3 linked regions of the Homo sapiens genome follow. The main gene of each other region encodes a partner of the protein of the gene in region 2 in a complex. Each region holds a gene or a part of one and is shown on either strand. Other genes may lie near its edges.

Region 1 (7,024 bases), on a different chromosome or scaffold from region 2:
CAAAAAAAAAAAAAAGACACCATTAAGTCAGCATTAAAGCAGATCCATCAGGCAAACACACGTGCAAGGCTCACAGGCAACAAGAAGAGCCAGCAGAAGCCGCTGGCGGGGGCAGGCCCTGCCTACCTGAGCATCTGCTTTTTGTGATTCTCCACTTCCTGGAGTAGAAGTTGTTTCTCTGATTCTTTGTCTTGCTCTTTAGCCAACTGCTCCAGGTCCTTTGAGGAAAAATAATTCCATGTTAAAATGATTTCAAAAGTCAACATGAAAGCAGAAGAGCATTTCTATTTCTGCCAAGGGCATACAATAGCACTTGAAGCACCCTTTTAAAACAGAACACCTAGGAATGCTAGGTAACATATAACACACATCCTTTTAAATCTATAGCTAAGTCCACAAGGAAGTAAGGAAAACCCCTATGGCCCAAAAGTGGGAAGGGAACAAGAGCTGGAATAGTCAGCCTGGGAGTGATGCACGGCTGTCCTGGCGTCAGAGCTGCTGCTCCTGTCACCTAGGGCAGGCCCGAAAGGAAAAGAAAAACAATGACGAAATACAAGCACACTGATCCCCCACTTAGATATCATTAAAATATCAAACTGCTGTTCATTTCCAGATACTCACAATTTCTGTGCCTATTTAATTAAAGACGAGTAATAGGCAGTTTGAGCGCTTGAAGGTTTGAGAGCTCGTGCAGGGACAGAAAAATGAAGCCCTGAGCCATCTGAGGCTGAGGTTGAGAAGCTGAACTGAGATCACCACAAATCTAAAACCCACGAAAGGTTACAGACACAGGAAAATGGTATAAAAAAATGTCCATCTACCAGCACAGAGGGAAAACATAGATGCTTGCCTTTTTTTGCTATGAGTTCCAAATAGAGGGGTTAAAAAAAAACTCCCCTGAGAATTTATAACCAACCAGGGAGCTGCTCCTTCCACTGATCTAGGGTTCAATTTATCTTCCCTGAGTGGTTCGTGAAACTCCATGAAGAGAAATGAACATAAACAGTGTTCTCGGCCGGGCGCAGTGGCTCACGCCTGTAATCCCAGCACTTTGGGAGGCCGAGGCGGGGAGATCACGAGGTCAGGAGATCGAGACCATCCTGGCTAACATGGTGAAACCCCATCTCAACTGAAAATACAAAAAATTAGCCGGGCGTGGTGGCGGGCACCTGTAGTCCCAGCTACTCAGGAGGCTGAGGCAGGAGAATGGCGTGAACCCGGGAGGCAGAGCTTGCAGCAAGCCAAGACTGCGCCACTGCACTCCAGCCTGGGCGACAGAGAGAGACTGTCTCAAAAAAAAAAAAAATGTTGTCAGACTTGTGATCATCTCAGGAGACCTGGCGGGAAGCTAATGCAAAAACCTCTGTAGAGACTTGGCCTCGACCCAGCTGCACAAAGTCCCTCAGATAAGGTCTGCTAAGATGAGCGCTCACAGTCCAAAATAACCTAACACCAAGGAAATAACCCACTATAAGTTAGGGTCAGCAGACATACCCAGAAGTATTAAACCCCAAGAACTTCAGATAAAAGAACCATCAAGAGGGACTATAATTAAAGATAGCATTATACCAATCACATTTTTTGGTTTACAAATTAAAACAGGTTCTAGCTTCAATCACGCTATTGATCTGAAACATCAATGTATTTGCTCATTTATATACTAATTTACTGATTTACGTATCAATTTGCACATACTGGTTTGGAACAAGTTTGTGTATCCACCATTTCAATAGCACAGAGATGACTTTCAATTTATGCCTCCAAATATTGCTGAGGTAGAGAATAAAAGAAATAATCAACTGTGAATTAGAAAAGTTTTGCAAATGTCATCAATTATTTTCATAATTATTTGTTTAAAATCTGTATTCCCTATTAGAATGTAAATTCTATGGGCTGGGCCTGGTGGTTCACGCCTATAATTCCAGCACCTTGGGAGGCCAGGGCAGGCAGATTACGAGGTCAGGAGATCAAGACCATCCTGGCTAACACGGTGAAACCCCGTCTCCACTAAAAATACAAAAAATTAGCCAGGCGTGGTGGCGGGCGCCTGTAATCCCAGGTACTCGGGAGGCTGAGGCAGGAGAATGGCGTGAACCCGGGAAGTGGAGATTGCAGTGAGCCGAGATCGTGCCACTGCACTCCAGCCTGGGCAACAGAGTGAGACTCCGTCTCAAAAAAAAAAAAAAGAATGTAAATTCTATGAATAAGCAGAGCTGTATCTCACATTATTCACTACATATATTCCTTGTGCCTGGCACATACTGGGCACTGAGTCACTGAATGGAAGAATGAACGCATGGGAAAAGCGGAGGGATTAAAAAGGGGGAGAAATGTACAATTTACTCATGAAAGATTGCCTGGAAGTTCTTTCAAAGAGAACCAGTGATAGTTCTGGAGAAAGGAATGGCGGGGGAGAGCAGTCCTCAAATTCCAGTTTGAGAGCTATATGTACAAAGACAAACACACAGATATTTATACACAGTCAGTGCCCAAGATTCACCATGTGCAGAACACCCAGTTTTGAGGATATGAGGCCAGTTCTCTAGTATCACATGATCTTGTTGGAAATACACAAAAAAGACATTCAAATAAAAGCTAAAAATGGCAAACAAACAGGAATCTTGTATTTATTTCCAGATACAAAAAGAGTATGTAAATACTTAAGAAACGCAGATTAAAACTGGGATGGGGTTATTCATTTACTGGCCATGTGCTTATTAGGTCCTTCCTAGGTGCCATAATAAATATGTAAATGTACACGTATTGGTGAGGTCATTTTAATGAGTGAAGGAAATAAACACTGGGTGGGCACCCAGATGTTTAAAAAGAACATACAAATACTCACACTGAAGGTAACAGGTGTAGTTGGAGAGTTGAAGTCATGCTGAGTTGAAGAAAAGTCTGTCAGGGAATAAGTTAGCTTAAAAAAAAATGTGGAAGCAGTCCAAATAAATGCCCTTTGATAGAGAACTGGCTAAAAAAAAAAAAAAAAATGACAGTTATTTAGAAAAGAATGAGAGACCAGGTGTGGTGGCTCCTGCCTGTAATCCCAACACTTTGGAAGGCTGAGGCAGGCAATCACTTGAGTCCAGGAGTTCAAGTCCAGCCTGAGCAACATGGCAAAACCCTGTCTCTATAAAAACTACAAAAATTTGCTGGGTGTGGTGGCGCACGCCTGTAGTCCCAACTATTTGGGGGACTGAGGCAGGAGGAAAATCGCTTGAGCCTGGGAAATCAAGGCTGTGGTGAGCTGAGATTGTGCCACTGCACTCTGGCCTGGGTGACAGCCCAAGACCCTGTCTCAAAAAAAGAAAAAAAAAGAAAAATGAGGACAGTCTCTGATTACTGAAATGGAAAAATTTCCAATATACGTATAATAAAATTATACTTAACAGTATAAGTTTTGACCGGGCGCGGTGGCTCACGCCTGTAATCCCAGCACTTTGGGAGGCTGAGGCAGGCTGATCACAAAGTCAGGAGATCGAGACCAGCCTGGCTAACACGGTGAAACTCCGTCTGTACTAAAAATACGAAAAATTAGCTGTGTGTGGTGGCACACACCTGTAATCCCAGCTACTTGGGAGGCTGAGGCAGGAGAATCGCTTGAACCCAGGAGGTGGAGGTTGCAGTGAGCAGAGATCACACCTGCACTCCAGCCTGGGAAACAGAGCCAGACTCCGTCTTAAAAAAAAACAAAAAAACAAAAGTATAAAGTTTTTAAAAGCTGTGTGTTAGTATGCTACTTTTTAGATGAGAAACAAGGAAGAAATTTTAAAAAAAAAGAAATTTGTCTTTTTAAATATTTGAGTAGAGAAACTCTGGAATGACATATCAGTAACAAAAGTGGTTACCTGTTTGGAAGAGTGGAACAAAAAACAAAACTGGGGCATAACTGAGACTTTTCACTGAATGTTGATACTTATAGACAGACACATACATAAAACATGTAAAAGGAACATCTTTTCAAAAATAAAAAATTAAGATGATTAAATCAGTACTGGAGATGAAGGCAGGAAGAGATCAGCTAGGTATGGTGACGCTGCTGAAAATCATATAGTTAACTCCAATAGCAAAAATTACACATTTTCAAAATTGCCCTTGAAAATCTCTGAGGTAGGCAAACACAGGACACAGACATACTGTTTCTCAGGGGTCCAACTGGCCAGCTTTTCTACCAGCTTTAGAACAGACTGTCTTCCTCTGTTAAGCAACAACAGAGTTGCTGGTGGGCTTTGGGGGCCATGTTATATGAAAAGCACAAGTCTTTTTTTTTTTTTTTTTTGAGACAGGGTCTTGCTCCGTCACCCAGGCTGGAGTGCAGTGGCACAATCTTGGCTCAATGCAACCTCCAACTCCCAGGTTCAAGCAATTCTCATGCCTCAGCCACCCAAACAGCTGGGATTACAGGCACGGGTCACCATACCCAGCTAATTTTTATACTTTTAGTAGAGATGGAGGTTGACCATGTTGACTAGGCTGGTCTTGAACTCCTGGCCTCAGGCGATCCACTCGCCTTGGCCTCCCAAAGTGCTGGGATTACAGGCGTGAGCCACTGTGCTGGCCAAAAAAGCTCAAGTCTTTAGACCTGATATAGTCTGAATATTTGTCCCTGCCCAAATCTCATGTTGAATGGTAATCCCCAGTGTTGGAGGTGGGGCCTGGTGGGAGGTGTTTGGATCATGGGGGTGGATCCCTAATGAATGGCATAAGTCATCCCCTTAGTGGTAAGTGAGCTCTCACTCAATCTCTCTCTTGCTCCTGCTTTTGTCATGTGACATGCCTGCTCCCTTTGCCTTCTGCCATGACTGGAAGCTTCCTGAAGCCTCCCCAGAAGCAGATACTGCTATGCTTCCCATACAGCCTGCAGAACCTTAAGCCAATTAAACCCATTTTTTTAAATAAATTACCCAGCCTCAGGTATTTCTTTACAGCAATGCAAGAAAGGCCTAATACAAAACCCCAATACCACAAGACCAGGTGCCACAAGACCCATCCAGGGATGGTGATATGGTTTGGCTGTGTCCCCACCCAAATCTCATCTTGAATTGTAACTCTCACAATATGTCATGGGAGGTACCTGGTGGGAGATGATTGAATTACAGAGGTGGGTCTTTCCTGCACTTTTCTCATGATAGTGAATGAGTCTCATGAGATCTGATGGTTTTAAAAACAGGAGTTTCCCTGCACAAGCTCTCTCTTTGCCTGCTGCCATCCATATAAGACGTGACTTGCTCCTCTTTGCCTTCTGCCATGATTGTGAGGCCTCCCCAGCCATGTCAGAAGTCCATTAAACTTCTTTTTCTTCCCAGTCTCACGTATGTCTTTATCAGCTGCATGAAAACAGACTAATACAGATGGGCAGATCCATGACACCCACCTCACCCTCACTGAAGGTACAGCAGGGGAAACATCTCCACTATTCAAACTGCTACTTCTAAGAGACCTCCAGAAGTCTAGAGGAGCAGGCATGTTTCCACACTCAGGTACCTCCTGACTCTCCTAGGTCCCACTAGGGCAGAGTAAGTGCTAGTTCTCTGCCAACCCAACATTAGGTCCTGTGGCTGCAGTGAGAAGAATTCCAGGAGAAAACTCAGGAATAAAAATGGAGAACGTAAGACATCAGACTGAAATTACTAGAAACCCTCAGGAAATAAAGAAGGAAGAAGAAACCAAGAAACCAGAAAAACCATCAGAACAGTAATCAACCCTTGGAGTGACCAGGAGATCCAGAGTTCCCTAAAAGAATGCAATTATCTCAAATTTGAATAACTGAAGAAGAATCATGAACAATATAAAGCAACTGCCTAGTGCTTCAAGTAGAGGGGCATGAAGAGGAGCCGGCAGGAATGTCTCCAGATAATGACAAGTTTGCAGGACTTTTACTGAACTACTCATGAGGCTAAACAGAGGCCAAGGAGCCAACCCTGTTCCTGTCCTCAGGGAGAGGGCCTACACAGGATTCCAGGATACAGATGGACAGCATCTTTTTAAGTGTGCAGATGCAGTCATCCTTCCAACTCCTGAGTTCCAGCCCTGGGCCTGTGCCATCCCTATTCACTTTGAGGGGCTGCTGTGGGCCCCTCTACCCATGAGCTGCATGCAGGATCCTTGGATGCCCAGATGGCAGCCTTGAAACATGACCCCTCCATAGTCAGCTCCATACGTGTTTCCTCTCAGCAGCCCCCAGACCCACAAGTGGTCTTCATCCTCTGATTCTGATCTAGATTCTGAACTTGGAAACAATTAGAAGCTGAATCCCAATTCTGTCTGAAAGCAACACAATAGTCTGGGCTCATGCCTGTAACCCCAGCACTTTCAGAGGCTGAGGCAGGAGGATTGCTTGAGCCCAGGAGTTTAAGACCAGCTCAAGCAACATAGAGCAAAAAATCCATCTCTATTAAAATATATATATATATATATATATATATATATATATATATATATATATATATATATTTTTTTTTTTTTTTTTTTTTTGACACAGAGTCTTGCTCTGTCACCAAGGCTAGAGTGCAGTGGCACGATCTCTGCTCACTGCAACCTGCACCTCCTGGGTTCAAGCGATTCTCCTGCCTCAGCCTCCTAAGTAGCTGAGATTACAGGTGTGTGCCACCATGCCCAGCTAATTTTTGCATTTATCAGAGACAGGGTTTTGCCATGTTGGCCAGGCTGTTCTCAAACTACTGGCCTCATTTTCATTTTTAAAAATGAAAGCAACAGAATAACATGATCTATACAGTGGTGCACAACTCTTTGCCCAGCCCAATGTAATAAGAATAAAATGTGAAATAAATAAAACAAACAAACATAACTGCTACTTGTCACCCTCTAGTGTTTTTTGAGACAGCACATATACCATACTTGAATTCAGGCATACTAAATGTGTATATGATGTGACTGGTGACTATTGAAATAAGGAAGATGCTGAGCAAAGTAACAGCATAAAAAAAAACCCAGGAGTGTGATGGATTGAGGTAGTGAATGAATGAATAGGGTAGAAAGAATGGCAGAGAAGAGAAAGTAT
Region 2 (7,024 bases):
GGCGGGTGGCCTTGTTGATACTCTGCTCTTGAATTAGACACACTCAGGCATTAGTGCCACTGCGCAGCCGCAGCCCCTGGAGCACAGACAGCAGGGACAGGCCCCTTTGCAACATAGGAGAGAGAGGAACAGAGCGGAACCTCTGCTGTCTCTAAGTAGGTAAAAGAGAGGAGAGAAAGGTGTGGTGACTATATGCACACCCCATGCTTTCTGCGAGGGGGCCAGAGGGAGGAGGCTCTGGGAGGAGGCAAGGTGTCATTTGGGGAAGTTGGTTCCCACAGAAACATGAGGATTAGGGAATAAGCATTCCCCCCGGTAGCCCAGGTTCTGTCCAGGTGGAGAAAGACCACCCTTATTGTCTCTCATCAAGTTCTCCCTCCCAAAGGTGGTAGACTGCTTAAAGCCTTTCTTTTTTACTCTTCTGCCCTCCCAGTGCAATGTGCTAGCCTTGGCCTGCTCCTAGGAACATTTTATGTGGAGTATGATCATGGAATTGAAAGAATATGTGTAGAAATACTGCCTTCAGACCTATGAGGCTTTGTTAGTTTGACATAATTAGGAAGCTGTAATTTTTTCCAGAATGTAGAGCTCAGACTTTATTGACCCATTTAATTTTTTTTTAATAATGACATTTTACTAGAGCAGAACAGCATGTAACCTAGATAGCCTGTGGCTAGATCTCTGAATGATTTTAATTAAAAATAATGTCTCCACTTCTGGTAGATGGACTTTTTCCACAATATCCTGGCAACAAAACAATCTGGGAGAAAAAACTTCCTTGGTTTCTGTTGTTCTTACTAATAGAATAACCATACTGTCAATTTTCAATTTAGAAGGTTAATGTATATATATAATGTTTCCTAAAGGAACATTACCTTTTAATTAAATAATCAGTTTTATCAAATTAACCTTTAGACCTTTTCAATTTCACTGAGCTGAGTTTCCATTAAATCAAAATATAGAGTAGGAGGATGTTAATCGAATGTTCTTGGAACTAGTCATTTCTAGGTCTGTTCTGTCTGCAGGGTACATATTCACTGAGTTGGTACCTTTCTGACTCATTTGTCCCTGACCCCGTTAGCCTCTATTTCCGATGAGAAGGTTCCTAGTAGGGATGAACCTAAGGCTTTGGCCCCTCTGCTTGCCACTCTGGCTCCTCCCCAGAGGGGAGCCATTCATCTGGTGTTGGAGGTGGGCTGGGGTTGGGGAGAGGGGATCGAGCTTGCTGGCTTAGCGCCTTTGTCTCACTGTTGGGTCTTCCCTCGGACAGAGTCCATTCTCTCATGGTTGCCATCCCAAGCCTAAGTAACTAATAGAACAAGATCCTAAGGAGCATTGGAATAAGGAACTAATTCCATGTCACTCTTCAAGTTCCACTGAGAGAGGATCATCTATTCCCTAGGAGGCTGGAGGCTGTGGGATTTCTTTTTCCAACTCTTCCTTAGAAAATATGGAAGTGGGGTAGGGGCCGTGGGATAGGGGTGACTCCAAGGGAGGAGAGGATGCTTATCTGGTGATTGGGAGTGAGAAGGACTTCGTGCTCATCTTACCCCTTTCTTTTTTAGAAGGGCCTGTCCTCAGGATGGATGTATTCCCTGTTTGTTTGTGCCTTAAGTTTCCTAGAGAAGGCTTTGGGAGGGGGATGCCTACCTGTCTTGGGGTGGGGGGAAAAATCGGTTTAGGAGGAACTTACTAGGGAGCACAGTCGTAGCTGTGTATCAAGCATATTCTCCAACTCAGGCTCATTCATTGGTTCAGTTCATTCAAAAGTATTTATTACTGATTTATTAATTGATCAGCCTATTAAAAATGCTAGGCATTGCTCTTGATGATGGGGATACAGCAGTGAACAAACAGAAGTCCTTGCCTTTGTGGAACTTACGTTTTTAGAGGGGAGAGACAGGCAAGAAAAGAAATAATTACACAAAATATATGGAATGTTAGAGTGGGGTAAGTATCTTTACGGGGAAGGAAGAAGGGAAGTGGGATAGAAAATGTCAGGGAGGGGACAGTTTATAAAGAAGGATTAGGGAAGGCCTCATTAAGAGGGCAACATGGAGTAAACACCTAAAAGAAGTAAGGGATGCATTGATGCAGCTATCTGGGGAAAGAACATTCCAGAAGGAGGAGACAACCAACACATGTAAAGGTCCTGAGGTGGGAGTGTGCCTGGAATGTTTAGGGAACACCCTCCACCCTCTGATTCAGTCATTTTGTAGTGTGAGACCCTTCAGTAGCTGCGCCATTGTTCTCAAAAGCAGAGCCTACATTCTTTATAAGCCTGGCTTATGCTGTAGCCCTGACTCCACGCTCCTTCTCCCTCTCCCTCTCCCCATCTGGCTTACGTCAGTTGGGTCTATTCCGGAGGATTTTCTACCACACACCCTTCATATGTGTTCTACTATCTATCTAGATGGTTCTCTCACCTTTTCACCTGGCCTGTTCCTCCTCACCCTTCAAGTCTCAGCTTAAATGTCACCTGATCAGGGAGGCCTTTTCTTCTCTTCCCATCCCACTCAGACTATATTATGTTCTCATTTGCTGCTGCCCTTTCCTTTGCTGTCTTTTTTTAGCCATACCATGTCTGAATATGGGAGGATGACAGACACAGAACGAGACCAGATAGACCAGGATGCCCAGATATTCATGAGGACCTGTTCAGAAGCAATTCAGCAACTACGAACAGAAGGTAAAGTGCTCTGAAAGATGCAAACAAGCAACCATGAATATAGCAAGTAGTTAAACAAGATGCATATGGTGCGGCCAGTTAAAATTCCCTCTTCTTATTTCGATTTAGGTTTTAAAACGTTAAAATCTTTTCTTTCTTGATCAATGTTTTAACCAAAGCTGTTAAAAGTACTGCAAAGGCTGTATCATTCAAGTTAAACCAATGAGAGGAGGGAGATGGAAAGGACCTCTCCAAACAGAACCAAAAATATATCTAGGGGCCAGGGGCAGTGAAGACAAATTTGTGTGTGTGTGTGTGTGTGTGTGTGTGCGTGTGTGTGTGTTCTGTGTGGCAAATTGTATGTGTGTGGGTGTGTATGTGTGTATGCACATGTGTGCCTCTGTTCTGTGTGGCATTTAGTGGGATGGGAGTTGACAGCAGCCTGGGGTACTTAAGCTCTACTTGTAATATTCAAGTAAACTTTCCTATCAAACCTTCAAGGTTAGGAGGAAGGCTCTGGAGCCAGGGCTGCTTAGGTTGCACCCCAACTCCACCCGTCCGAGCCATATAGCCCTCTGCAAATCACTTAATCTCCCTGGGCCTTGTTTTTTTGTCTATGAAATGCAGACAATTAGGGAATGTATCTCTAGGGTTGTTATGAGCATTAAGTTAAATTCCTACAGCATGCTTAGAACTGTGTCTGGCACAAGAGCGCTTATTATCTCACTTTCGTTGATGTTTAATTCTCACTGAGACAATGAGATGGCTTCCCAAGTCACGCCTCTTTCTTGATTCTTTTTTAATTTGCTTAGGCATTTACAGAGTACATTAAATAGTAAGTAGAGTTCAAAGCTGCCAGATGCTGTTGTGCTCACAACACAGACTTTTGTTGGGGAGGTTTTTATTAGAATGCTGACGGACCACTTGGAGACTCTGATGGAAGCAATAGGCATTCTTGCCAGAAAAATGTACATACACAAAATTCTATATGCAATTTCACAGAGCTCCTGAGTCCCCCACACAAATCTTGGGTTAAGCAGCCCTATAGTAAGGCAGAAATCATGCCCTCTACCCTTAAGGGCATATACATTCATTGAGAGACCTAAAAAATGCACAGGAATATTTAACAAAACCTACATTTACATATGAAACCATCTAACCTTGGGCTATTTATTGCCTCTGAACCTTAGTTTCTTCACGTGTAAAAATCAGGAAACTCGGAATTGCTATTGTAATTACTAGCAGTACATATGTAAAGTGCTAGCAGAGTACCTGCACGCAGTAGGCACTCAGTCTCTCAGTCAGTGGTCACTATCTTACCAAAACCAGTGGCACAGACTTTAGGTCTGGTAAGGCCTTTTAGCACACTTCTGTGTGGTAGTTCCCAGGAGAAAGGCATCTTTGTGGCTAGGAGTCATAGGTTTCCTGGAGACAGAAAGTTTGACTCATTGTCTAAGGGACCCTTAGAATGTGAGTGGCCAAGGGGAGAGGATGGGGCACTACAGGCTGAAAAGCAGCACAGGTTCAAGCAGGGAGGAGTGTGTGATTTCAGTTGTTTAAACATGTTCGCTGAAGGTCAGCTTGAGCATTGGATGCTGTTAACACAGATGGGGTCAGCACTCAAGAAGTGGCTGCGTCAAATACTATCCTTAAGTGTTCTGATAAACCATAAATTATTTGACTATAGATTTTCTACAGGTTTAATCTTTCACTCTTGCGAAGCCTGATACATCTTACTGTTTTAAAAATGTAGTGTCACTTGGCACAAGACTTGTTTTATAGCTGTGTTTTAAAAAATACTCTCAATAAAGAAAGTGTTGTGAGGAAGCTGATGAATTGCTCTTTAGGATAATTGAGTGCGAAGGCCTGAACATTGTCTTTTTCTGTTACAGCTCACAAGGAGATACATTCCCAGCAAGTGAAGGAGCACAGGACCGCTGTTTTGGATTTCATTGAAGATTACTTGAAAAGTATTTCATTTTCTTTTAAAGGTCAAATGTAACATTTCACAATAGATGTGATGCAGAATTTAGCTTTGCTAGCTGAAGACTGTAGTATCTCATTATATTTAATGATGGCTTTGCCTGAGAAGCTGTTTTAAGCAGTCTCTCTTCTGGTATTTTCTTCTGCAACAGGAGTATGTAAACTTTACTCAGAACAGAGAGCCATCCGAGTTAAAAGAGTGGTGGATAAGAAAAGATTGTAAGTATTGCTTTCATTGGTGTTTCTTAATTAATAATAGTACTACTAATAATAGCAGTTAAAGTTTGTAGAGCACTTACCCTATGCAATGTACCGTGTTTGAACTTCTTCGCAAAATGCCATAGCTGGCGCTACCGGGCACTCACTGTGTGCCAGGCAGCATGCCAGCCACTTTATTGGCCCACAACAAACCCCCATGAGGCAGGTACTGTTTCCTCCCTCATTTTACAAATGAGGAAGTTGAGGCTCAGGAGGCTTGGCCACTCACCCTAGATCCCACAGTCCCACAGGTAGCATAGCTGGGGTTTGAGCCTAGGCTGTTGGTCCAAAATCTGTGCTCTTGCCCATTTTGTCTCTTAACCCGATGAGGCTGGCACATCTTGAGCCATTTTACCTCAATCTCTTTGACCCCCATACCCCTTCTTGTCGTCCCTGAAAGTGTATTCCTGAGAGAAGAGCGAGGGCACAACAAGCAGGCCACCACAAGGCTGTCCTCAGGTCACCTGTGACAGACTTGCTCGATGCCACATGCTCTGAGTGCACACCTCCCTCCAACCCCACTACCTGTCCCATGCAGGCACTATTAGGAGCCCTGTCAGCAGGTAAGGACGCTGACGCTCCAGCAGGGTAAATGACTCATCCAAGGCCACAGGAAGCAGGAGGGCCAGGCTCCTGTATTTTCCATGGCGCCTGCCTGGTTTCCCCTCTGGGCTCACATGAGCATCTGGAATGCAAGAGCTGTGTCCTCACAGTCGTTCCCGCTGCAACTCAGCCAGTCTTGGAGATGGAATACATCAGTGAGCAAGTATCCAAACCTGGACCATTTCTAGACTAGCTTTAGAAAGGTTTTAGGATGTTCTTTCAGAAGATAACATCACATAACTGTTTGGGGACACATTTTCTTTTTTGTTTTTTTTTGTTTTTTTTGTTTTTGAGACAGGGTCTCACCCTGTCTCCCAGGATGGAGTGCAGTGGCACGACCTCCTGGGCTCAAACAATCCTCCCACTTTAGCCTTCCGAGTAGCTGGGATTACAGGCATGTGCTACCATGTCTGCCTATTTTTTAATTTTATTTTATAAGGGTGGGATGTCACTATGTTGCCCAGGCTGCTGTCAAACTCCTGGGCTCAGGCAATCCCCCTGCCTCCCAAAGTGCTGGACTACAGGCGTGAGCCACCATGTCTGGCCCACATTTTTTAAATTCTTACTGTGTCAGGGGTCCCCAGCACTACTCTCTGGTTCTAGGATTCACTAAGAGGTCTCATGGGACTCAACATACAGTCCTGCTCCTGGCTATGATTTGTCACACTGAAAGGATACGAAGCAAAACAGCAAAGGAAAAGGCATGTGGGACAAAAGTCCAGAGGAAACCAGGCATGAGCTTCTAAGAGTACTCTCCCAGTGGAGTCACACAGCATGTGACCTATGACAACACGTGAAGTGTTGTCTACCAGGGAAGCTCATTAGTAACTCATTGCCCAAGGATTCTGTTAGGGGCTGGTCACATAGGCACCTCACACCTGGCATCTACCGAAACTCTAGACTCCCAGGAGGAAAGCAGGTGCTCAGCACTGAACTGCATTCAAACCGCATGTTTTGCAAAACAGTTCAGGCACGGCGAGCTGTTTTTATCAATTAGGATGGCATGAACTCTGCCAAAGTCCAACTTCTCAGATGCCAGGCAAGGGTTAACCTTGCAAGCAGGCCTTTCTAAGGATAGCAGCCTCAGGCCTACTACATGAACCCTTTTCTGCACATTTGTGAAACAGATGTGAAATTGTTAATGCCAACAAATAGAAGCATTTGTGGAAGATAGTAAGCAGATCAGTCAAGTTATCTGTCAGCAACAGCTACTATTATATAATGCACTGAGAGGGTAGCTTGAGAGAAGCCATAGATTAAGTCTTTGTGCTTAGAGAGCTTAGAAGCAGGCTGGGTTGCTATTAAACATGAAAAATTAGTCAGCTTAATCAGGATATGTCATAATTAGTGAAATCGGTAGTAAGCTCAGAGGGGGAAATGGTACGATCAAGTGGCATAGTATAATGCCTAAGAGCCAGACTCTGCAACCAGACAGCCTGTGTTTGAATCCTGGCTCTGCCACTTTCAAACTGTGTGACTTTGAGCAGGTTGCTTAACTTTTCTGGGCTTTTG
Region 3 (7,594 bases), on a different chromosome or scaffold from region 2:
TGAGAAAGAACATAGGCGCAGGCTGTGCAGATCCTGGGGAGAGACTTGCTTGGACTTCTCGGGAGGGATATTTTAAGCAAGAGACTGACATTTAGTGCCTGAAACTCAGAGCAAGGAACCCAAGAAGTTGGTGTTTGACTTTGACCAAGCCCTAAATTCAGACCAGCCCTAGTAAGCAACTCAAGATTCAGACAGACCAGTACAGCCAGATGCTAGACATAGCTGTGAACAGCAAAAGCACTCTGGAATATCACAGAGTTGATTTCTAGCTGTGGTTGTAACATAGCTGAGTGGCAAATTAGTTTCTCAGCGCTTCTATTTCCTCACTTGGTAAACCCTCACCCTGTTGAGAAAGTTGAATTAACAGATTAGGAAGCTGGAAGCTGTCAAGCCCTGCCTAGAGCCCAGTGACCTAGAGGCTTCCTTCTAAACTGGACTGTTAGTAGGGAATCTGGTTGATATGAGTTTGGGGCCTAGAGAATACTTTTATACTTTTTTTTTTCTTTAAACATTAGTCAACTGTAGTAGTAAGGAGGAGAGAAAGATTAGAACAAGGAGTTTAAGCACTTAAAAAATCCCAACTCTATCCTTTCTCTGCAGCACCCTCATCACATGTGTGGATTCTGGGATTCTCAGAGTCTGGCATGACAAGGACAAGGACACATCCTCTGACCCAGTGAGGCTCCCCTGCCCTGATGGTTGGGGGAGGTGGGCTGGGGTAGGTGCCTAATGATCACGCTGGGGAAGGGAGGATTAAGGACTCTGGAACGGACTCTTATCTCCTATTCTTTACAGCTCCTGGAACTGAGAGTGGGCCCTGGGGTGTGTAGGATGCGCCAAGACCCAGCACACCCCCATGTGGTTGCCACAGGTGGGAAAGAGAATGCTTTGAAGATATGGGACCTGCAGGGCTCTGAGGAACCTGTGTTCAGGGCCAAGAACGTGAGTGACAAGAGTGTGAAGGAGCTGTTCCTGAAGTCGAGGGAGGCTGAGGCCACTGACGATGCATTAGAGACTAGATGGACTTAGGGGGCGAAGGAGGGCTGAAAACAGGGGCACATCGAGCCCCCCATAGCCCTGTCCTCCATCTGCCCACCCCACCAGGTGCGGAATGACTGGCTGGACTTGCGGGTTCCCATCTGGGACCAGGACATACAGTTTCTCCCAGGATCACAGAAGCTTGTCACCTGCACAGGGTACCACCAGGTAAGGTGTCACCTCACACCTGCCTTCTCCTGGGATAAAGCAGCCTCCTGGAGAAATGGCCCCCACGGTTTGACACAACTGCTCTTCTCACCATTCTGAGTTCAGAGGAGCAAGCGCTTCCCCGTCTGTTCCAACCCTGTCCCTGAGCCCATGACCTTCCTCTACTGTATTCTAGGGTGGAGTTTCCTGAACTATGCCTGTTTTCCTCCCACCTGGAAGAGAGGAAAGGAGAGTGGATCCCCTTCACTGTGGGAATTATAGGGTGCAGGTGTCAGAGGACATTGGGCTGGGTGTTAAGAGAACTGGGTTCTGGTCCTGATGCAGCCTCTCTGATTTGCTTTGGGACCCAGGCCTGAGCCTCCCATCTCTGGCCTCAGCTCCTCAGCTTTACAGGAAGGGCCCGAATGGGGAATCTTTATGGTTTGTCTCATTTGAGGTCTTGAGACACGGGCGGGGCTGGGTCACTGTATTTGTCCTATTTTCTTTGCTTCTGCACATTGAAGTCTGATCTTGGTCATATGCCTCTGCTCAAAACACATATGAGGGCATCCTCTTTCCTCCTTCATTCAGGCTAACCCCTGCTTGAAATTTAGCACCTACTGACTACTAGACCAACTTGCTTTTCTGTCCCTCCATTTCCCCTAGATGGGAGTATGGGGGGATGGAATGCTCACACACTTCCAACCTAGGGGACCTCTCCCCTCAGCTCTGTCCATTTATGCTGCTAAGCAGCTCTCCTGACACCCTGATGCTCAGAGAAGAGGCATACATCTAAGATGAGAAAGTTTCTGGGAGTGGATCATAAATAAGAAAGCAGTGTGCAGGGAGGGGGTGAGGATGCAGAGACGCCAGAGGGTAGGTGCAGGGTGAGGATACTTTTGTGATGCTTCAGCCTTCCTCTAGGTCCGTGTTTATGATCCAGCATCCCCCCAGCGCCGGCCAGTCCTAGAGACCACCTATGGAGAGTACCCACTAACAGCCATGACCCTCACTCCGGGAGGCAAGTGAGTGTTTAGAGGGGAAGGGGTGGGAGGGTGGGGCTTGAGAAGGGCTCCAGGAGGTTACTGCTGATCCCACTTGCCTCTGGTCTCATCCTCAGCTCAGTGATTGTGGGAAACACTCATGGGCAGCTGGCAGAAATTGACCTTCGGCAAGGTGAGTGGACTAGGGTACATTGGGGGAAAGGAAGGAGCAGGGAGAAGGGTCAGGATTCCCTCTAAGGTGGTGCAGTGGGGCCAGTGAGGCCTCATTCAGGTGCCAGATTGCCTGGGTTTAAATCCTGGTTTCCCTAAAAGCTGTATGACCTTAAACTAATTATTTCAACTCCCTGTGCCTTAGTTTCCTCACCTGCGAAATGGAAATATTAGTAGAAGCTCCAGTCTCAGGGTTTTGTTGCAGATTAAATGTTGAAATGGAAAGTGATTGGAACAGGAAACAATGAATGGTTGGTTATTGGCCAGCCAGTTATCACGGATGCTTCCCCCCTTCTCTAGGGCGTCTACTGGGCTGTCTGAAGGGGCTGGCAGGCAGTGTGCGTGGGTTGCAGTGCCACCCTTCAAAGCCTCTACTAGCCTCCTGTGGCTTGGACAGAGTCTTGAGGATACACAGGATCCAGAATCCACGGGGTCTGGAGCATAAGGTAAGTTGTCTCTCCCACCTCCAACTCATGGTCTTGTGGAGGCCCCGCCTCCTGTGCCCTCCGTTCATGTTTCTGTCTCAGCATGCCTGGCTCCTTAAGGTCCCTCATCTTTTGCAGGTTTATCTCAAGTCTCAATTGAACTGCCTCCTCTTGTCAGGCAGGGACAACTGGGAGGTGAGCAGTTGGGCCCGGGAATGTGGGAGCCAAGGGCATAGATGTGAGGACCTCCCTATGGAGAGGAAAAGGAGGCAGCTGGAATGCAGACTTGGGACTATCTGTTTACCTGCCTGGTCACTTAATTTCTCTGAGAGGCATTAACAGTTAAAATCCTGAGAGGGTTATTGCCAACAGCATGGATGGGGTTGCTTTCTAGGAGCAGGGAATAAAGGTGGTGGTACCCAGAGGGATTCTTTCTCAGCCAGGGTCTCCTTCCCTGTGGGTTTGTCCCTGTGCCCCTGACTACTTTTCTTTTTTTTTTTTTTTTTTTTTTTTTTTAAACTTCTTTTTGTGGAGATGGGGTCTCCTTATGTTGCCCAGTCTGGTCGCTAAGTCCTGGGCTCAAGCAATCCTCCTGCCTTGGTCTCCCAAAGTGCTGAGATTACAGGTGGGAGCCACCGTGCCCGGCCCCCCTGACTCCTAAGCTTTCTTCCCACTCACCAGGATGAGCCCCAAGAGCCTCAAGAACCCAACAAGGTGCCCCTAGAAGACACAGAGACAGATGAACTTTGGGCATCCTTGGAGGCAGCTGCCAAGCGGAAGCTCTCGGGTTTGGAGCAGCCCCAAGGAGCTCTCCAAACGAGACGGAGAAAGAAGAAGCGGCCTGGGTCCACCAGCCCCTGACGCCCCTGTGCCCACTTTGTAAATAAACTGCTGAACACCCACCATGACCCTGAGCCTTTTGTGATGGGAGAAAGGAATGAGGGGTAGCTTGGGGTGGGGGCTGCCTGAGCTGGGGCGACGGGATATCTGATGTCACAAAAGCCGGGCCTGGAGGCAGGCAGGCTGGCGTGGGTGGCACGGAGTCCAGGGCCACGCGGGGCCATGGGCTGCTGCCAAGACAAGGACTTTGAGATGTCTGATGAGCAGTCCAAGGAGGAAGAGTCTGAGGACGGCAGGGAAGATGAGACCACAGACACACAAAGAGGGCCCAGGGAGTGTGAGAGGGGGCTTCCCGAGGGTAGGGGTGAGCTCAGAGGCCTCGTCGTCCCCTCAGGCGCCGAAGATATCGACTTGAACTCCCCGGACCATCCGAATCACAAGTCGAACGAAAGCCTTCTGATTACCGTGCTGTGGCGGCGACTATCCACGTTCGGTCGTCGGGGCTCCTCGCGGCCAAGCAAGAGGCAACCAGACCAGATTCGGAAGCAGGAGAGTCCGATCCGAGAAGGCAACCAGGAGGAGCCGGAGAAGGGATGACCCCAGACCTGCTCTCAGTCCGCCCCAACCTCCAGAGAATAAAATTTCTAACGTATACCTGCACGACCACTCTGGGGGACTGGGCGCGGACACCACCGGGCAGCTGGTTCTTTAAGGCTCCTTCCCGGAGGCGGGCCCAGCCCCCTGAGCGCCTGCTGTAGTACTCTGGGGCGGGGTCACGGTGGCGCCTTAGCCAATGGGAGGGCGGGATCGCTCTTGCGTTTGGGTGTGGGGCGTGTCTTTCGGGTCGCTGGGCTTGAAACGCGTGGGACCGCCCCCTCGTCACTGGGGGTGGGGTTACGTGTAGGTGACGTGGCCGCTTCCAGTCTTTGGTCGGGTTTCGGCGGCTTCAGTGCTCGGGGAGGAGGCAGTGACGGCCGGTGAGATTGGAAGTGGCGGCGGCGGCAGGCGGCAGAGGGGAGGTAAGATTCGCTTTAAGAGGGGATCTGGCCGCCGTGTCAGCTCTGGGGCAGTGGTTTTACGGGGGCGACGACTGGCGGGGGGAAGGGAATCAGGGGCGAGCGGGCAAGTCCTGCCGGCCCGGCTCCGGGTGAGCGAATTCCTTGCCGTCCAATCAGGAAAGCCTCTGTTGAGAGAGACGTCGGCCTTAGCTAATGAGTGGTTGAAGTCTTCCAGAAGGCGGACCTTGGGCGGGGGGTGGGACTTCCTGTTTCAAATAAACACCCAGAGGTTTTCCCCCTCCGCCCACCGAAGTGTGTCAGTCTTTGGAGGTCCGTCACTGGCCCTCCCGGAGGGGCCGAAGGAAACCGCGGAAACGAAAGGGCTGGGTTAGGGCCCGGGGCAGTTACACGGGCCGGGCCGGAGTCTCAGGACCACGGGGTTGGCTCTGGCCCTGTCTCTGCTTCAGGGTCCCCGGCCCGCGCTCTGGCCGCCAGAGCCAAGTTGGAAGAAGAGTCTGAAGCGGGTTCGACTTGGGACAGGGGAAAAGCGGGGCCCTTTCCGCTGCTGGTCCGCCCCAGGATTTGCGAGCGTCCTGGGCGCGAAAGTCCACGAGAAGTGCAGAAGGGGCTCGGGGATTTGTTGATTGGGGTGGGGCGGGGGAGTTTGGGTAAAGAAGTTGCCTGGGGAATGACACTCTCCCCTCCACAACAGTCCGAGGTTATGCGTCTCAATGATCCCGCGGAAACGCTACGGGTCTAAGAACACGGATCAGGGTGTCTACCTGGGTCTCTCAAAGACACAGGTCCTGTCCCCTGCAACTGCTGGCAGTAGCAGCAGCGACATCGCCCCTCTGCCCCCCCCAGTGACCCTCGTCCCTCCCCCTCCCGACACCATGTCCTGCCGGGATCGGACCCAGGAGTTTCTGTCTGCCTGCAAGTCGCTGCAGACCCGTCAGGTAAGGACCTGGAGTGGAAAAGGCGAGGAGTGAGCCTTACTCAAATCTAGGAAGGACTGTGCTCCACCACTGTTAACCGAAGTAATTTTGGGGGGTACCTGATGGAACTGATAGGCTTGGATGGGGCCTGTAGGGTCTGCTATAAGCAACAGAGAAGAGGTCGGCTGGCTAACTAGGGGCAAGGACTTAGACTTTTTTTTGTGAGGAATCCTTTGGAGGGCAGGATTGCTATTCTGGAGGGAGTACTTCAGAGAGTACTTGGCTGCAATATAATTGGTGTGAATAAGGAACAAGTTCTAGGAAGAGCCTTTAGCTGAGAAACATGCACCTTGAATTTTCCAATATACTTCTACCATAAGTTTGCTCTGTAACCATGAGAAAATTAGTTAATCTAGTTACATATTAGTTTTTATCTCTGTAAGATTAAGGACATTTTCTAGATAAGTAATTTGTTGTTTTTGTTTTGTTTTGAGATCTGTTTTTCAACTCTGTCAACAGGCTGGAGTGTAGTGGTGTGATGATAGCTCACTTGCAGTCTTGAACTCCTAGACTCAAGGGATCCTCTTTCCTCAGCCTCCTGAGCAGCTGGGACTACATGGATGCACCACTCAGCTAATTTTAAAATTTTTTCGTACAGGCAGTGTCTCACTATGTTGCCCAGGTTGGTCTGGACACCACACCTGGCCCTAGATCAGTAATTTGTATCAAAATCACTTAGGGTTGGATGTGGTGGCTCATACCTGTAATTCCAGCACTTTGGGAGGCCTAGGCCAGAGGATGACTTGAGGCCAGGAGTTAGAGACCAGCAGGAGCAACAAAGCAAGACCCTGTTTCTACAGGAAAAAAAAAAAAAAAAGCTGGACGTGGTGGCATGTGCCTGTAGTCCCAGCTACTTAGAAGGCTGAGCGAGGCCCAGTCTCTTCCTCTCTCTCTTTTTTTTTTTTTTTTTTTTTTGAGAAGGAATTTTGCCTTGTCGCCCAGACTGGGGTGCAATGGTGCAATCTCGGCTCACTGCAACCTCCTCTTCCTGGGTTCAAGCGATTCTCCTGCCTTAGCCTCTCGAGTAGCTGGGATTACAGGTGCCCGTCACCACGCCCGGCTAATTTTTGTATTTTTTTTTAGTAGAGATGGGGTTTCACCATGTCAGGCTGGCTTTGAACTCCTGACCTGAGGTGATCTGCCCTCCTCAGCCTCCCAAAGTGCTGGGATTACAGGTATGAGTCACCACACCTGGCCTCTCTCTCTCCTTTTTTGGAAACATGGTCTCACTCTGTCACCAAGGCTGGAGTACAATGGTTCTATCTCATCTCACTGCAACATCTGACCTCCTGGGCTCAAGCAACCCTCCTGCCTCAGGCTCCTCAGTAGCTGGGATTATAGGCATGTGCCACCACATCTGGCTAATTTCTGTTTTGTTAGTAGAGATGGGGTTTTACCATGTTGCCCAGGCTGGTCTCGAACTTCTGGGCTCAAGTGATCCGTCTGCTTTATCTTCTCAAAGTGCTGGGATTACAGGTGTCAGCCACTGCACTCAGCTCCTCTTAAAAAAAATTTGGGAGTGCTATTTATTTATTTATTTATTTATTTATTTTTGAGATGGGAATTTCGCTCTTGTTGCCCAGGCTGTAGTGCAGTGGCACGATCTTAGCTCACTGCAACCTCCGCCTCCCGGGTTCCAGTGATTCTCCTGCCTCAGCCTCCCAAGTAGCTGGGATTACAGACATGCGCCACCATGCCTGGCTAATTTTGTATTTTGAGTGGAGACGGGGTTTCTCCATATTGGTCAGGCTGGTCTCAAACTCCCGACCTCAGGTGCTCTGCCCGCCTCAGCCTTCCAAAGTGCTGGGATTGCAAGCGTGAGCCACCGTACCCAGCCGGGAGTGTTTTTTTCAACAATCCCAGTGGGACCCGAGTAAGCAGTTTGTGTTTGTTTGTTTGTTTGTTTGTTTGTTTGTTTTTGAGACAGTCTCTCTTTG

Evidence for each region.
Region 1: STX18 (region 2) and BNIP1 share a complex: the UniProt entries of both Homo sapiens proteins name them as parts of the SNARE complex.
Region 3: STX18 (region 2) and STX5 share a complex: the UniProt entries of both Homo sapiens proteins name them as parts of the SNARE complex.

Annotation. Positions count from the first base shown.
Region 1 is NC_000005.10:173,147,516-173,154,539, reverse strand, and holds part of BNIP1 (vesicle transport protein SEC20), read right to left. Parts: intron 2,975-7,024; coding exon of another isoform or gene 2,846-2,974; intron 219-2,845; coding exon 127-218; intron 1-126. UniProt on the Homo sapiens protein: As part of a SNARE complex may be involved in endoplasmic reticulum membranes fusion and be required for the maintenance of endoplasmic reticulum organization. Also plays a role in apoptosis.
Region 2 is NC_000004.12:4,455,037-4,462,060, reverse strand, and holds part of STX18 (syntaxin-18), read left to right. Parts: intron 1-88; exon of another isoform or gene 89-155; intron 156-2,573; coding exon 2,574-2,689; intron 2,690-4,560; coding exon 4,561-4,638; intron 4,639-4,803; coding exon 4,804-4,870; intron 4,871-7,024. UniProt on the Homo sapiens protein: Syntaxin that may be involved in targeting and fusion of Golgi-derived retrograde transport vesicles with the ER.
Region 3 is NC_000011.10:62,829,043-62,836,636, reverse strand, and holds the start of STX5 (syntaxin-5), read left to right. Parts: upstream 1-4,585; 5' UTR 4,586-4,683; intron 4,684-4,981; exon of another isoform or gene 4,982-5,186; intron 5,187-5,374; 5' UTR 5,375-5,393; coding exon 5,394-5,618; intron 5,619-7,594. Other genes in the region: WDR74 (WD repeat-containing protein 74), read left to right, coding at 601-718, 796-942, 1,105-1,206, 2,110-2,210, 2,306-2,361, 2,700-2,845, 2,963-3,019, 3,506-3,685; TEX54 (testis-expressed protein 54), read left to right, coding at 3,887-4,261. UniProt on the Homo sapiens protein: Mediates endoplasmic reticulum to Golgi transport.